2 separate regions of the Homo sapiens genome follow, and region 2 is linked to region 1. A link means that fine-mapping ties the variant in region 1 to the expression of a gene that starts in the linked region. Tissue or cell type: stomach. Region 1 holds a variant in brackets; the other region holds the start of a gene. All regions are shown on one strand. Distances are from middle to middle.

The links. PIP is the estimated chance that this variant, and not a neighbour inherited with it, causes the effect.
Region 2: it holds the start of ZNF606-AS1, and the variant in region 1 is fine-mapped to the expression of ZNF606-AS1 in stomach (GTEx, PIP above 0.99). The same link has a PIP of 0.9 or more in esophagus muscle, ileum, left ventricle, subcutaneous fat, sun-exposed skin and transverse colon.

The regions. Positions count from the first base shown.
Region 1 is chr19:57,953,016-57,961,119 of GRCh38, reverse strand. It overlaps C19orf18 (chromosome 19 open reading frame 18), which reads left to right. Exons shown (of 6, transcript NM_152474.5): 6 at 2,403-2,683. The coding sequence ends at 2,518. It also overlaps the pseudogene RPL19P19. Among named protein-coding and RNA genes, the nearest start is that of ZNF256, 9.4 kb to the right of the region's middle. RefSeq lists a silencer at 6,001-6,168. The variant G/A (reference allele first, on the strand shown) is at 3,472.
Region 2 is chr19:57,999,302-58,007,405 of GRCh38, reverse strand. ZNF606-AS1 (ZNF606 antisense RNA 1) reads right to left here and starts at 4,512. Exons shown (of 4, transcript NR_036508.1): 1 at 4,360-4,512; 2 at 4,070-4,195; 3 at 2,706-3,023; 4 at 200-1,499. ZNF606 (zinc finger protein 606) reads left to right here and starts at 4,586. Exons shown (of 7, transcript NM_001348022.3): 1 at 4,586-5,010; 2 at 6,036-6,117; 3 at 6,667-6,723; 4 at 7,510-7,598. The coding sequence starts at 6,087. RefSeq lists an enhancer at 4,235-4,654.

The sequences.
Region 1 (8,104 bases):
GGGAGTACAGGCGCCCGCCACCATGCCCGGCTAATTTTTTGTATTTTTAGTAGAGACGGGGTTTCACCATTTTAGCCAGGATGGTCTCGGAAGGCAGCTATGCTCACCACTATACCACCAACGCTCGGGTGCCAGGATGGTCTCGATCTCCTGACCTCGTGATCCGCCCGCCTCGGCCTCCCAAAGTGCTGGGATTACAGGCGTGAGCCACCGCGCCTGGCCTGTGGCTTGGTTTTCAAAGGCAAAGATAAGTGGGAGTTAAGGGAGTTTGAAGTAAGAGAGACAAATATTCACAGCCACACTTACGGAAATGAACCTTTCTCATCAAATCTTACAGAGGGGTGAACAGCTGTGGGGTTGCTCAGTTCCTTTTGCAGGGCAATTCCACGGATCTAACAGAGTTCAGGAAACAAACTTTTCCCAGCACAAAACATGTTTCCGTTAAACATACTCATTACCGTGATGTTATCCTGCATTCAGAACACAGACACGCAGATGTTTCACCTGCACCATCTGTCTCCATCTGACGTGAAAATGGGATCCAGACCCACAAAATAGAGGTCACTACCCCAGGGTAAAATTTCCCAGCATGCCATGCCCACCACAGACATGTTCTGCTGTCCTTGTGAGAAGAGGATGAAATTGATTATTTAAAACTGATTTTGTAGAAGTTCTTTTTTTTTTTTTTTTTTTTGAGGCGGAGTCTTGCTCTGTTGCCCAGGCTGGAGTGCAGTGGCATGATCTCAGCTCGCTGCAAGCTCTGCCTCCCGGGTTCACGCCATTCTCCTGCCTCAGCCTCCCGAGTAGCTGGGACTATAGGCACCCGCCACCACACCCAGCTAACTTTTTGTATTTTTAGTAGAGACGGGGTTTCACCGTGTTAGCCAGGATGGTCTCGATCTCCTGACCTTGTAATCCACCCACCTCAGCCTCCCAAAGTGCTGGGATTACAGGCATAAGCCAATGCACCCCGCCTGTAGAATTTATTTTATTTATTTATCTTTTTTTTTTGAGACAGAGTCTCCCTATGTCACCCAGGCTGTAGTGCAGTGGCGAAATCTTGGCTCACTGCAACCTTTGCCTCCTGGGTTCAAGCAATTCTCCTGCCTCAGCCTCCCGAGTAGCTGGGATTACAGGCGTGCACCATGACCCCTGGCTAATTTTTGTATTTTTAGTAGAGACGGAGTTTCACCAGTTAGCCAGGCTGGTCTCGAACTCCTGACCTCAATTGATCCACCCGCCTCGGCCTCCCAAAGTGCTAGGAGTACAGGTGTGAGCCACCGCTCCTGGCCTTTTTTTTCTTTTTTCTTTTTTTTTTTTTTTTTGAGGCAGAGTTTCACTACGTCACCCAGGCTGGAGTGCAGTGGTGCAATATCAGCTCACTGAAGCCCCAACCTCCTGGGCTCAGTTAATCCTCCCACCTCAGCCTCCTGAGTTGCTGGGACTACGGTGCATGTCACTATGCCGGGCTCATTTTTGTTTGTGGTTTCTTTTTGAGATGGAGTCTCGCTCTGTTGCCCAGGCTGGAGTGCAGTGGTGTGATCTTGGTTCACTGTAACCTCCGCCTCCTGGGTTCAAGTGATTCTCATGCTTCAGCCTCCCGAGTAGCTGGGATTACAGGCACATGCCACCACGCCTGTCTTATTTTTGTATTTTTAGTAGAGATGGGGGGTCTCACCATGTTGGCCAGGCTGGTCTCGAACTCTTGACTTCAAGTGATCCGCCCTGTTCAGCCTCCCAAAGTCCTGGGATTACAGGCATGAGCCACTGCGCCGGGCTAGTTTTTGTATTTTTAGTAGAGACAGTTTTCACCATGTTGCCCAGGTTGGTCACAAACTCCTGGGCTTAAGAGATCTTCCCGTCTTGGCCTCCCAAAGTGCTGGGATTATAGGTGTGAGCCACTGAGCCCAGCCTAGAAGTTCTGAGATTCGTGGGTACCTGTTTAAAAAATTCTAGAGAGAAAACTATAGAGAGTGTAGTGTGTGATTCAGACATACTAACCATCCTCACATGGACTCACTCTCTAAAAACTCCAGACATAGCCAGAAAGAGGCAGAACAGCCACAGCAGGAGAGATCACTGATGCTCACTGAGGCAGAGGACTTTGTCATAACCTGTAGAAAACATTTTCCCAATGTCTCTTTACCACATTGGATTATAAATTTTCTACATTCTTCTTCTTCTTTTACTGGGCATTTATACAACTTGAATACAAAATATGGGAAAATAATTTTAAAATTTAATTTTCACCATCCTTGTCAGACAAATAACATTCATTATGAATCCTCTGAAAATTCCACTGTTGGTACCTCTATTTTTCCAGGCTTTTTCCCTCACCCCTTTTGTCTCCATTTTTATTCCTCACTTATTACTATCTCAATAACATCATTTCTACATTTTAGTTATTATATCAAAAAGAAGCAAAAATATTAAGAAGAAACTGAAGGAAGAGCAAAACTCAGTAACAGAAAACAAAACAAAGAATGCGTCACATAATGGAAAAATGGAAGACTTGTGAACGCAGACGACAGAGGTGCCGGCTGAGGCAGAGGAGAAACTATGGGGGTGCTGGGAGACTGAGCCTGTGGGCGTGGCTTGCTCCCAGAGAACCTTATGGAAGAGGACATCAAAGAAAGAAATGCCAGACCTGTATCCCAGAAAATAAAGCCACATGATATAGCAACTCTTGCTTATTGGCTCTCATAGTTGATGAATAATTATAACTTAATTGGAAAATAGAATAGAATCCAACTTTGTTAAGGGTTAAGAGAACTTGTCAGGATTTTCTTCTCTTGCTCCTGACCAGAAATACCGCACAAGTAGTTTTGGGGGGCCATCTCCCAGACTAGCCAGGGAATAGCTTTCATGAAGCAAAACTTTCCTGGTGAGATTACCTGTCAGCTCCATACCTTGTTTCCTTTGTACACATGAGGAAACTGAGGATGTTAAAATAAATATGACTCCGGATTAAAACACACTCATCATTAGTCAGGCATGGTGGCATGCGCCTGTAATCCCAGCTACTCAGGAGGCTGAGGCAGGAGAATCGCTTGAATCCGGGAGGCGGAGTTTGCAGTGAGCCGAGATCGCGCCACCGCACTCCAGCCTGGTTGACAGAGCAAGATCCTGTCTCAAAAATTAATTAATTAAATAAAATAAATAAATAAAATAATTAAATAAAATAAGTAAAACACACTCATCCAGGCCAGTCATGATGGCTCATGCCTGTAATTCCAACACTTTGGGAGCATGAGGCAGGCAGATTGCTTGAGTCCAGGAGTTCAAGAGCAGCCTGGACAACATAGTGAGTCCCCGTCTCCACACAAAAAAGAAATACACACTCATCGCCGTCAGGTTCCAGCTCTCTTGAGGGAAACAGGCCCACAGGCAAGGAGCTAAGAAACACGGCCAGAGGTAGCAAGTGGACACCAAGGGCTGTGGGAATGCAAAGAGGCAAGAGTGAGTGAAACG[G/A]TGCGGCTGTTTTGGAAAACAATCTGACGGTTCCTCAGAAAGTTAAACATAGAGTTACTGTATGACCCAGCAAGTCCACTCCTAGGTGTACATGCAAGAGAACTGAAAACACATGTACACACAAAAACCTGCACACTAATGTTCTTAGCAGCACCATTCATAAGAGCCAGAAGGTGGAAACAACCCAAATGTCCATTAACCAACAAATGGATAAACAAAATGTGGTCTATCTGTACAATTAAATATTTTTCAGCAACAAAAAAGAATGAAGTCACTCTGGGAGGCCAAGGGGGCAGATCATGAGGTCAGGGGATCGAGGCCATCCTGGCCAACATGGTGAAACCCCGTCTCTACTAAAAATACAAAAATTTAGCTGGGCGTGGTGGCGGATGCCTGTGATCCCAGCTACTCATGAGACTGAGGCAGGAGAATGGCGTGAACCCGGGAGGCGGAGTTTGCAGTGAGTCGAGATCGCACCACTGCACTCCAGCCTGGGCTACAGACCGAGGCTGTCTCAAAAAAAAAAAAAAAAGAAAAAGAAAAGAAAAAGAAAAAAGAGTGAAGTTCTTACGCACACTACAATATAAACAAACTGAAAAACATTATGCTAAGAGCAAGAAGCCAGACACATATTGTGTGATTCTGTTCTTTAAAAATGGCCAGAATAGGAAACTGTATAGATGCAGAAAGTAGATTGGTGGTTCCAGGAGCTGGGGCAGCAGGAGGGGGAAGACTGCTTGTGGGTACGAGGTTTCTTTATGGGGAATGAAAATGTTAGAGGCTGGGCACAGTGGCTCATGCCTGTAATCCCAGCACTTTAGGAGGCTGAGGCAGGTGAATCACTTGAGCTCAGGAGTTTGAGAACAGCCTGGGCAACATGGCAAAACCCCGTCTCACAAAAAGTACAAAAATTAGTGGGGCATAGTGGCATGAGCCTGTAGTCTCAGCTACTTGGGAGGCTGAGGTGAGAGAGGATGACTTGAGCCCAGGAGGTGGAGGTTGCAGTGAGCCAAGATTGTGCCACTGCCCTCCAGCCTGGGCAACAGAGCCAGACTCGGTCTTAAAAAAAAAAAAAAAAAAAAGAAGAAAAGAAAAAAGAAAATGTTAGAAAATTTGATAGTGGTGATGGTTGTAAACTTTGTGAATATACAAAAAGCACTAAATTGCATATTTTATTATTTTTTATTTTTTTGAGACAGAGTCTCCCTCACTCTGTCACCCAGGCTGGAGTGCAGTGGCACGATCTCGACTCACTGCAACCTCTGCCTTCCAGGTTCTGTTTTTTTGGTTTTTTTTGAGACGGAGTCTCGCTCTGTTGCCCAGGCTGGAGTGCAGTGGCGCGATCTCAGCTCACTGCAAGCTCCGCCTCCCGGGTTCACACCATTCTCCTGCCTCAGCCTCCTGAGTAGCTGGGACTACTGGCGCCTGCCACCATGCCTGGCTAATTCTTTTGTATTTTTAGTAGAGATGGGGTTTCATCGTGTTCGCCAGGATGGTCTCGATCTCCTGACCTCATGATCCTCCCACCTCAGCCTCCCAAAGTGCTGGGATTACAGGCGTGAGCCACGATGCCTGGCCCTCTGCCTTCCAGGTTCAAGCAATTCTCCTGCCTCAGCCTCCCAAGTAGCTGGGATTACAGGCATCCACCACCAGGCCCAGCTAATTTTTATATTTTTAGTGGAGACAGGGTTTCACCACATTGGCCAGTCTGGTCTTGAACTCCTGACCTCAAGTGATCTGCCCACCTCAGCCTCCCAAAGTGCTGGGATTACAGATGTGAGCCACCACTCCTGGCCTGAACTGCATACTTTAAAAGAGTGAACTTTGCACTAAATGAAATAAATCTCAGTCAAGCTGTTAAAAAAAAAACATTAGCCTGGGCCGGGCATGGTAACTCACGCTTGTAATCCCAGCACTTTGGGAGGCTGAAGAGGGTGGATCACGAGGTCAGGAAATCGAGACCATCCTGGCCAACATGGTGAAACCCTGTCGCTACTAAAAATACAAAAAATTAGCTGGGCGTGGTGGTGGGCACCTGTAGTCCCAGCTACTCAGGAGGCTGAGGCAGGAGAATCGCTTGAACCCGGGAGGCAGAGATTACAGTGAGCCGAGATCGAGCCACTGCACTCCAGCCTGGTGACAGAGTGAGACTCCGTCTCAAAAAAAAAAACAAAAAAAAAACCACAAAAAAATTAGTCTATGTTGAGGATGAACTGAACTCAGACTCAGGTCTTCTAACCCTTCCTTTCAGTTTCCATCTTTCCTAAATTAAATTTTAAAAATTAGAACAGACAATGTGAGAAGGCAAAAGTCAGTGTGTATATTAGAAATTGGGACAGTGCAAAGCATTTCTCAAGCCGACAGCTTGGTCCTGCCTGCACAGTGCAGCCAGTAGGAATCACACATGGGATGGGCAGCCCCGGGGGCACAGGACAGAGCGGCCAGGGCACTGTACCAAGGCACAACTCCCAGGTCCTGGACAGGCCTCCATGTCCCTCCCTGCAACTTCAATCCTTGAGGCAAGAGCCATGCCCAGCCCTTGAGGCTCTGAGATCAAATCCTAACTAGGGAGACACTAGCCTGCAAGACTGCAGTTTTAGTTAGCTTGTCTGCCACAGATTGTGTGGCCTAAACAACAAACATGTATTTCCGACAGTTCTGGGAGTTGTAAGTCTAGGATCAGGGTGCCAGTATGGCTGGGTTCTCCTGAGCACCATTATTCCTGAGAGAGAGAGGAAGCTCTTTTCTGTCTCGTCTTGTAAGGGCACTAATCCCATGCATGAGGGCTCTATCCTCATGACCTAATCACCTCCAGAAGGCCTGTTTCTAAATACCATCACATCAGGACACATGAATTGATGGCGGGGAGTTGGGGGGGGATACGTTCAATCCATAGCAACTGCTTTTAAAAACATTTTACTATGCCACAAATATTTGTTGGGCAGCATGTTCCTATGATTGACAATGTGGCAAAGCATGTGTGGATATTTCTCAGCAAAGATCGCGACTTCTAGGGAACCTCTCTAGAAGGCACAGTGTGTTTTAGGGGAGACACCAACCCCAAGAATGTCTCTGCCAGTGCCACCTGGTTTTGCCCACAATTCAAAGCTTTCCTGGGAGCCGGATGAGGGGCAATGGAACCAGCAGATGCAGGGGTAAAATCTATTCCTTCATTGATAATTCTCAGAGCAATTCTATTCCAGGGTCCTAAATCAGATGAGGTGCCCAGGCTGGGCATGGTGGCTCATGCCTGTAATCCCAGCACTTTGGGAGGCAGAGGTGGGCGGATCACCTGAGCTCAGGAGTTCCAGATGAGCAGCCCAGAGAGAGGGAAGACAGGGAGGAGCCTCCTGCATGCCTTGGTGGCTCTGGAATCCACCAGGGACTATAGACTGTGCATGGTCCTCCAGGCAGTGGTAGCCAGCATGGTTCATGCTCCAGTTCTAGTTCTGCTGGGAACATGCCATGCCATACCTAGCCTCCAGCGTGGACAGACTGGGCTGCTTTGTAGCAAATATCAAGTGAACAAGGAAGGGAAGAACATGGATCTTCGTGGGCAGATGTCTATTAGCAAAAACTGCAATGGGAGGCAGAATTATAAGATGGCCCCAAGATTCTCACCCCTCAGTGCACTCAGTTGCCTAATTTCCTTCCATTGAGTGGGGGCTGTGAATCTGACAGACGTCACTCTTGTGATTAGGCCAAGGCAATAAGATACTCCCCCCCTTCACTGTTCTATAAGACTGCCTCAGCACACGGGAGCGAGATCCTCCTGCTGTGAGAGGGCCACGCCACGGGCCCCTAGCAGTTGAGATGGCCCCCAGCAACAGCCGACAAGAAACTGGGAACCTCAGAGCTCTTTCCTTTAGCTGCTGCTGCAGCCGAAGCCATGAGTATGCGCAGGCTTCAGAAGAGGCTCACCTCTCATGTCCTTTGCTGTGGCAAGGAGAAGGTCTAATTGCACTCCAAGGAGACCAGTGAAATCACCAATGCCACCTCCCATCAGCAGATCCAGAAGCTGATCAAAGATAGGCTGAACATCCACAAGCCTGTGACTGTCCATTTCCGGGCTCGATGCTGGAAAAATGCCTTGGCCTGCTGGAAGGGTGAGTACATGGACATAGGTAAGCTAAAGGGTATGGCCAATGCCTGAATGCCAGAGAAGGTAACTTGGATGAGGAGAATGAGGATTCTGCACGGGCTGCTCAGAAGATCCCATGAAGTTAAGAAGATTGACCACCAAATGTATCCCAGCTTGTACCTGAAGGTGAAAGCAAATGTGTTCAAAACAAGCAGATTCTCATGGAGCACATCCTCATGGAGCACGTCCACGAGCTGAAGGCAGAAAAGGCCCAAAAGAAGCTCCTGGCTGCCCAGGCTGAGGCCCACAGGTCTGAGAACAAGCAAGCACACAAGTGGCTGAAGAGTACACTCAGGCCAAGAAGGAGGTGATATCAAGACTTTGTCCAAGGAGGAAGAGAGAAGCAATAAAAGCTCCCCCTTTCTTGTCTGTACATACTGGCCTCCGTGATTACATAGATCAGCCATTAAAATAAAACAAGACGGCCGGGCACAGTGGCTCACGCCTGTGATCCCAGCACTTTGGAAGGCTGAGGCGGGCGGATCACGAGGT
Region 2 (8,104 bases), 46 kb before region 1:
CCCTAGTGCTTCCAAATTCCCCAGTACCCAGTGACACCCAAGTGAGACAGTGGAGCTGGGCTTTTCTTCCAGCCTTCCTCTTCCTATTGCTTTTCTCCTCTTCTATTCCTCCTACCTTTTAATTCATCCAACCATTATCACGCAGGAGATACAGAAGCTGGGGCTACAAATGTGGAAGCAAAAGACACCCCCGTTTTTTCTTTCACATTTTAATTGAAAGACAGTGTAATGCCATTACAGTACACTAAGTATACAGCCTGATGATTTCTTAACACGCGTATACCTGTGTAACCACCACCCAGATCAAGATATAGAACATTTCCAGGCCCCAGAAGACTCCCTTGTACCTCTTTAGTCAATGCTGCCACCCCCAGAGGTAAGTACTTCTTTCATCATGGATTACTTGCCTGTTCTTGAACTTCATATAAATGGAATCATACAGTATTTATCACTATACCTGTGATAATGCAATATTGTTGTGTGGATATGTGGCTAATTATTATTTATTTATTTTTTTGAGACGGAGTTTTGCTCTTTTTGCCCATGCTGGAGTGCAATGGCGCAATCTCGGCTCAATGCAACCTCCACCTCCCGGGTTCAAGTGATTCTCCTGCCTCAGCCTCCCGAGTAGCTGGGATTACAGGCATGCGCCACCACCCCGGCTAATTTTGTATTTTAGTAGAGACGGGGGTTCTCCATGTTGGTCAGGCTGGTCTTGAACTCCCAACCTCAGGTGATCCACCTGCCTCAGCCTCCCAAAGTGCTGGGATTACAGGCATAAGCCACCGCGCCCAGCATGGCTAATTATTTTTATTGCTAAGTAGTAATCCATTAAATTGACGTATCAAAATTTCTTTATCCATTCTCTTGGTTACAGACATTTGGATTATCTCCTGGTTTGGACCGTCATAAATAATGCCACTGTGAGCATTCTTGTACATATCTTTTAGTGGACAGATGTTTGCCTTTCTTTTGAACAAACAGGAGTAGAATCTCTAGGTCATAGTACAGGTTTATGTATAATTTTATAAGAAATTGTCAAACTTTTTTCCAAAGTGACTGTACCACATTATACTCCCATCAGCAGGGTATGAGAATTCCAGTTGGCACCATGTCGTCCCATTTGATGCTGTATTTTTATTTTTGGTCATTCTAGAGGATGTGTAGTGGCAATGTCCTTTATTTTAGGATAAGAATCAGCAATAATAAGAAAAGAATCTATGTAGCAATTACCTTGCCCTTTGTTTATACAGAACAGTTCCAGCTCCTTTACTGGACTAAGATCGAAAACCCCAACTCTCATTGCATTTACCTTACCCCTTCCTATCTCGGGGGTTGTCTTAGTCCATTTGTGCTGCTGTAACAGAATAGCTGAGACTGCGTAATTTACAAAGAAATGTACTGCCTTACGGTCTGGAGGTTGGGAAGTCCAACATCAAGGTGCTCACATATTTGGCGATGATGAGTTCAAGATGGTGCCTTGGACACTGCATCCTCACCTGACAGAAGGTAAAGGGCAGGGTGGTGGAGGGTGGGGGTGGGGGGAGAGAAAGAAAGAGAGAGAGAGAAAGAGAATGCAAGCACATGCAGAATCTCTCCATGAACCTTTTACAATGGCATTGTTGACGAAGAGTCAAACTCTGTAAAATATTTGAAGAGATTTACTCTGAGCCAAATATGGTGACCAGTGGCCCCTGACGCAGCTCTCAGGAGATCCTGAGGACATGCCCAGGGTGGTTAGGGTTCAGCTTGCTTTTATACATCTTAGGGAGACATGAGACATCAATCAATACATATAAGATGTATACTGGTACAGAAAGTTTCCAGGTTATAGGCAGATTTAAAGATTTCTGATTGCCAATTGATTTAAAGAGTTATTGTCAATAGAAAGGAATGTCTGGGGTTGTGGAACTCAAGGTTTTACCAAGCAGATGAAACCTCCGGAGATAACAGACTGTAAATGTTTCTTATCAGACTTAAAGAGTCTGTTCTATCACTAATTCTAGAAGGGAGGAGGGTATAATGAGGCAAGTCCAGCTTCTGCTTCCCATCATGGCCCGAACTCATTTTTCAAATTAACTTTGGAATGCCCTTGGCTGAGAGGAGGGGTCTATTCATATGGTTGGGGGGTGGGGGGCTTAGAATTTTATTTTTTGGTTTACAACATTAATCCATTCATGACAGCAGAGCCTTATGACCTCCATAAATCCCATTAGACCCTGCCTCCCAACACTACTGCACTGGGGAGTAAGTTTCAACATGAATTTTGGAGAGGATAAAAACATTCAAATCATAGCAGGGGTGTTTTTCTTCATCTGGTTTCCTGACACCTTTAGGTCAAAGGTATCTCTCTCATTTGAGTTCCCTCTCAAAAGTGAACAGAGCTACCTCATCTCTCTTTAGAATATGAATTCTAGTCTTATTTTATATGAACATTGAGGTTTGTGTAGCAGGTATTTGGTGATTGCATATCTTAAAACTTGGCTTCTGTACTGTATGAGACTATCAGTTACGATACGAAGAAAATAAAAAGAGAGTAATACAATTGAGAATTAGGGAGATGAGTCACAGCTGGCTGTTACCAGGATGTGACATCTGTGCTGTGATCTGGATGAAAAAAAGAAAACCCTGGGGCTGTACAAGGAAGAAGATTCCAGGAAGAGGAAACAATACGTACAAAGGCCCTGAAGCAGGAATGGACTTACCCTGTTTGAGGAGTGGCTGGGGTCCAGAAATGGGCAGGAATGACAGGAGATGAGCTTGAGGGACTGAGGTGGGGTGTGGGATAGGACAGAGGCCAGTCCTGCTGAGTTTTCTAAGCTGTGAGCTGGAATTTGGATTTTACTTTAATTACTTGGGAAGCCAGTGCAGAATGTGAGGCAAGGACCTGATGTGAGATCCTAAAAGTGCCCTTGGCTGCCTGCTGGAGGATGAGCTGTAGGGGGCTGGAGTGGAAGTGGAGAGACACTCTCTTCTTACTTCTGTCACTCTTCCTTCTCCAGCCTCTCTTTCTCTGCTTGATCCTGAGATGGAAATTGTGGCTGTACCATCCATAGATTGCTTTCCTCTCAGTGCCCACTCTGACTGGGTTCACCTTCCTGCCAGCTGGGGCCTGTCCCAACACCTTGCCCCTTCCACCTTACCTCTCTCATGGTCCTCTCCCTCGAATTCAGCCTGTCCTACTTGAAATTTTCCTCTCCCTTGAATTCAGCCTGTCCTACTTGAACTTTTCCTCTCCCTCTGAAAGGGCTACTCCCCTTTGCCCACCCACAGTGAGTGCCAACACCACCCAACAACAAAAGCCCAACCCACAGGCCAGCTTTTTAAAATGATCCTCCATTACTAGTGGAAATATCTTCAAAATCTCTCTTGCCCACTGCTCACTCAAGTCTAGCTTCCTAAATGGCCATGCTTTCTTTGGTATCACCACCTACAGTCCCTCAGTCCCTTTTTTTGAGACAGAGTCTTGCCCTGCTGCCCAGGCTGGAGTGCAATGGCTTGATCTCGGCTTACTGTAGCCTCCGCTTCCCGGGTTCAAGCGATTCTCCTGCCTCAGCCTCCCAAGTAGCTGGGTACAGGTGCCCTCCACCAAGCCCGGCTAATTTTTGGTATTTTTAGTAGAGACGAGGTTTTATCATGTTGCCCAGACTGGTCTCGGAACTCCTGACCTCAGGCGATCCACCTGCCTTGGCCTCCCAAAGTGCTGGGATTACAGCTGTGAGCCACCGCGCCCGGCCCGTTTTTGTTTGTTTTAATGCCGGGTCTTGCTCTGTTGCCCAGGCTGAAGTGCAGTGGTGCGATCATAGCTCACTGCAACCTTGACCTCCCAGGCTCAAGCAATCCTTCCACCGCAACCTCCTAAGTAGCGGGGACTACAGGCGCGCGCCATCACACCGGGCTAATTTTTGTATTTTTTTTGTAGAGATGTGGTCTCGCTATGTTGCCCAGGGTGGTGTCGAACTCCTGAACTCAACTGATCCTCCCGCCACAGCTTCCCGAAGTGCTGGGACTACAGGAATGAGCCACCGCTCCCGAACCGCTCCATGCATATCGATAGAGGAAAACTCACAGGGTGCGTCGCTGGTAACCCATGCTCCCATAAAGCCTGGCCTCTGGAAAGAGACTTGGGAACGAGCCCTGACGTTCTCAGCCGTCGAGCTTCACAGAGAAGGGTAGCTCGAATTAGGTTCCTTATCTTAAAGAGAATAACAGCAGTCACTTTCTCACAATCTTGCGAACGCCAAATGGAAGGATCCCTCGAGAGCGCTGAGAACTCGCCGAGCTCCTCCCGGGAAACCCGGTACCACGAGGCGCCATTTTGCGGATGGGCAAACCGAGGCCCGCGGGGCCGCGACTTACCCAGGCCTTTTTGCAGTGGGAGGCGACGGTGGAGGAGGGTGGTCTGGGACCGGGACAACAAAGTCCATCCTGCCGCCGGCTTCGACGCAGGTGCCAGAAAGGTCCCAACCCCGCCCAGGCAGGGCGAGGCGGCGCGGCCCAGGAACCTGTCATGGCGGCGCCGCTGCCCGACGCCGGAAGTGCCCGCCTGGAACTACAGCTCCCAGCAGACCCCGCGGCGCGCTCCGGTCGACGCCGGGGAAGCAGCCGCCATTGTCCGCGGCTGAGGTGAGGCCTTTGCTCAGGCTGTGGGGCCGCCGTAGCTGCGGGGCTTGGGGGGTCAGGAGAGCCGGCTGGGAGAGGCGGCGTCAGGGTGGGTCCTGCGCCTGCCCTTTCCGCGCCGGCTTTGCGCCGTCGTTGCCGTCGGTTCTCCAGCCAGCAGCCTGCCTCCGGCCTCCCGCCTCCGGGCGTTCTTCGTTTTCTGGTCGGACGGGCCTGGGTGAACTCTGCTGCACGTCGGCTCCGCGGGCCTTTGTCCCCGAGGCCGCGCCGGGAGCTCCCAAGCGCACTCCTGGGCCGGACCTCGGCGCGGGACAAAAGCCAAACGCCCCAGGCGGGCAGACCCCGATCCTGCTGCGCCGCCTTCAAGGGGGACCGCCGGCCGCGAGCCAGGTGAGGCCGGGACGAGCTTTTGCAGCGTCGCGGCCGCGTCGGTCTTGAGGAGGAAATTTGGGTCGGGAGCTCTGGAAGCAGGTGATAAGGATGCTTCTGAGGCCATTGATGGGACGAATAACCCCGTTCGTTCCCCAGCCGTCGTTTCTCCCCCTGCCAGTTCACACAAAGCACTGTGAAGGACGTCAGACCTGGGTTGGAAACAGCTCCGGGTTCCCTTAAACATGCAGTGACGGCGGCGGTCACTGTCAAGTTGCAAATAATGGTGCAAAGTACGGTTTGCATTCTGCGTTTTCGCGCTGATTCCGGTGCTCCTGAGGCCCACTGTGTGTTCTAGTGCTTTATACACATACCCAGGAATCCATTCGAGAGGTTGCTGACTTGTACAAAGATCTGGAACCTGAGGAGTTAGGGGTCTGGGCGCCAGGCCCATCTCTAAGTCCTCCACACACACACAAGCTTAGGCTTAGTAAATCTTGGAGGTGAATTTTTTTTGGAGGTGGGATTAAATTTGCATAACATAATGTTCACTTTAAGCACTTAAAAGTGTGCAATTCACCGGTTTTATTGTATATTAATAAAGTTGTGCAATCATCCCCATTATCTAATTTTAGAACATTTCATCACCCCACAAAGAAACCCTTGTTCCCCTTAAGCAGTCACTCCCCATTTCATTTTTCCCCCAGCTCTAGGCAACCACTAATATATGAGGATTGCAAGTTGATTTTACAATAATTGTCAGATTAATCCAAAAGTTCCATCTGTGTTGTGACTGGCTGTCTCTTGGGAATAGCTGACAAATTTGTACCCTCTCATTCAGGATCATGCTCTTTTTTCCAGCTTATGCAAATTACCTTTCATTTCTCTCCAGGAATTGTGTTACTTTTTTGACATGTAAATTCTCTTTTCTTACGATGCTCCTTACAAGTTTTTTTGTTGCTTCGGTGGATGGATTCCCTTCTTTGTTCCCACTTGGTCTTCTGTGAGAAAGGACTAGTTTTGTCTTTTTTCACTTTTGTCACTAGGTTGGGATTTGCTGTGTTCCTGGGCAGGTGCCTGGTCAATCAGTCCTCGGGATGGCAGCCATCAACCCGTGGGCCTCCTGGGGTGAGTCCAAGTTGTGTTTCTCCTGGGCCTCCCCTATCATTAGCTGCTGCAGTCATGGGTCAGAGCTGGTGATGGGCTGAGGACTTTTGAGGATGGAAGGGGGTCTGTCTATCTTGGTACAAAATTAGAACTGATTGGTGGTAAAGGAGGAAAATTGTTGGCATAAAAGACACTAACTTTTATGTTTTATAGTCATCTCCTGAGAGGTGTCATTAGTTTTAAGGGATTTTTCTGGTGGTTTGTGGGGTTTCCTAAACAACAGTGATACATATAATAAAATATTGTCTCTACTGCTCTCATATATATTTTTACCTTTATTGTTTTTACTTATATAGCATTGGTTGGTAATTTTAAAACGGTGTTAATTAATAGTGACTCACCTGTGCATTGCCTGTGTGAATCCAGCTTATGTTGCATTTTTTTTACACACCCTTGGGCTCTGTTTATGGAATTTTGTAGTGCCCATTAGCGAGTCAGCCTCCTCTTGTATTTTGTCGCCTTGAATCACTAGGTTTGGTGTCACAGTCCTAACCTGATCCTTCTGTGCAGGTGCCCTTACGGACCAATCTTGGGGGATGACAGCTGTTGACCCATGGGCCTCCTGGGGTGAGTCAAGAGCCTGGTCAGCTGTGGGCTGCCATATTGTGGCCTCTGGCTGTAGTGCTCTGCCACAGCTGGGGAATAGAATGGGGACCAGGTGGGGCTTTAGGGCAGGTGGTCCAGATCTGTCTCTGTGCAGAGCTGGAACAAGGAGGAATCAGAAAACTAGTGGCCAGGCGTGGTGACTCACGCCTACAGCACTTTGGGAGGCCGAGGCGAGTGGATCACGAGGTCAGGAGATCGAGACCATCCTGGCTAACACGGTGAAACCCCGTCTCTACTAAAACAAAATACAAAAAATTAGCTGGGCGTGGTGGTGGGCGCCTGTAGTCCCAGCTGCTCGGGAGGCTGAGGCAGGAGAATGGCGTGAAGCCAGGAGGCGGAGCGTGCAGTGAGCCAAGATCGTGCCACTGCACTCCAGCCTGGGCGACAGAGCGAGACTCAGTCTCAAAAAAAAAAAGAAAACCAGTGAGCAGTAAGGTGATGGTGACATCTCAAGATGCATGAGAATTCATGTGTGGCCGTTTAGGGTTCAGGCCCAGGAAGGTTGTGACCAGACACTGCTTCTCAGAGATGGTACCCAATAGCACAGGGGGGGCCAATGAGAGATTCATGTGTTTAGGTACTTTCCTAACCTTCTCTGAGCCCTAATTCCTTCATCTATAGAATGAGGAAGTGGGTCTCTTTCCTCATTCAAGGGGGAGGGGCAGGGGCTGGTTCTCAGCCCCCCAGAAGAAAAGGTGAGCTCCTGGCAGCGAGAGCTGCCTCCATGACTTTTTTCTCGTTTCCTAGCTCTGTGTCCTCAGTATCCTGCCTGGCACGTGGAGGGAAGCCTGGAGGAGGGGAGGAGGGCCACTGGGCTCCCAGCAGCCCAGGTTCAGGTGAGATGGGGCTGTCCTGTTCCCAGAGGATGATGTCCAGGTTATCCCTGGTCATCCCAGTTGATGCGGCTCTCCAGTTTACAACAGTTGGAGTTTGGGTAGGGAAGGAAGCAACTGGAAGTTAATCCTTCCTGAGAGCAGGTAGGGAGAATTAGGCCGTTTTTAGTGATTCGGAGCCTTAGTGTCAACCAGTCTGTCCACAGTACTGAGCTCCAACTCTCCCTGGCTTGTTGTGGGGCATGAAGGGCAGCCCTTTTGGCTGGCAGCCCCACTTCTCTATTGCCACCTTCACTCATGTCTTTAGCACCCGATTTAGGCTGATGCTGTGCAGTGCCTGCTGTGCCTGCTGTGAAGGGAACAAGGACAGGTGTGAGCCTTCACCCTGAGGAGCTCCCAGACCCTTTTCCAGGGTTATTCACTCAGCTAAGGAGATCTCACGGCCTACCTGGAGCCACACGTGCAGTGTGGGACAGGAGAAACCTGAGACGGGTAGGGTAGGCCTGCAG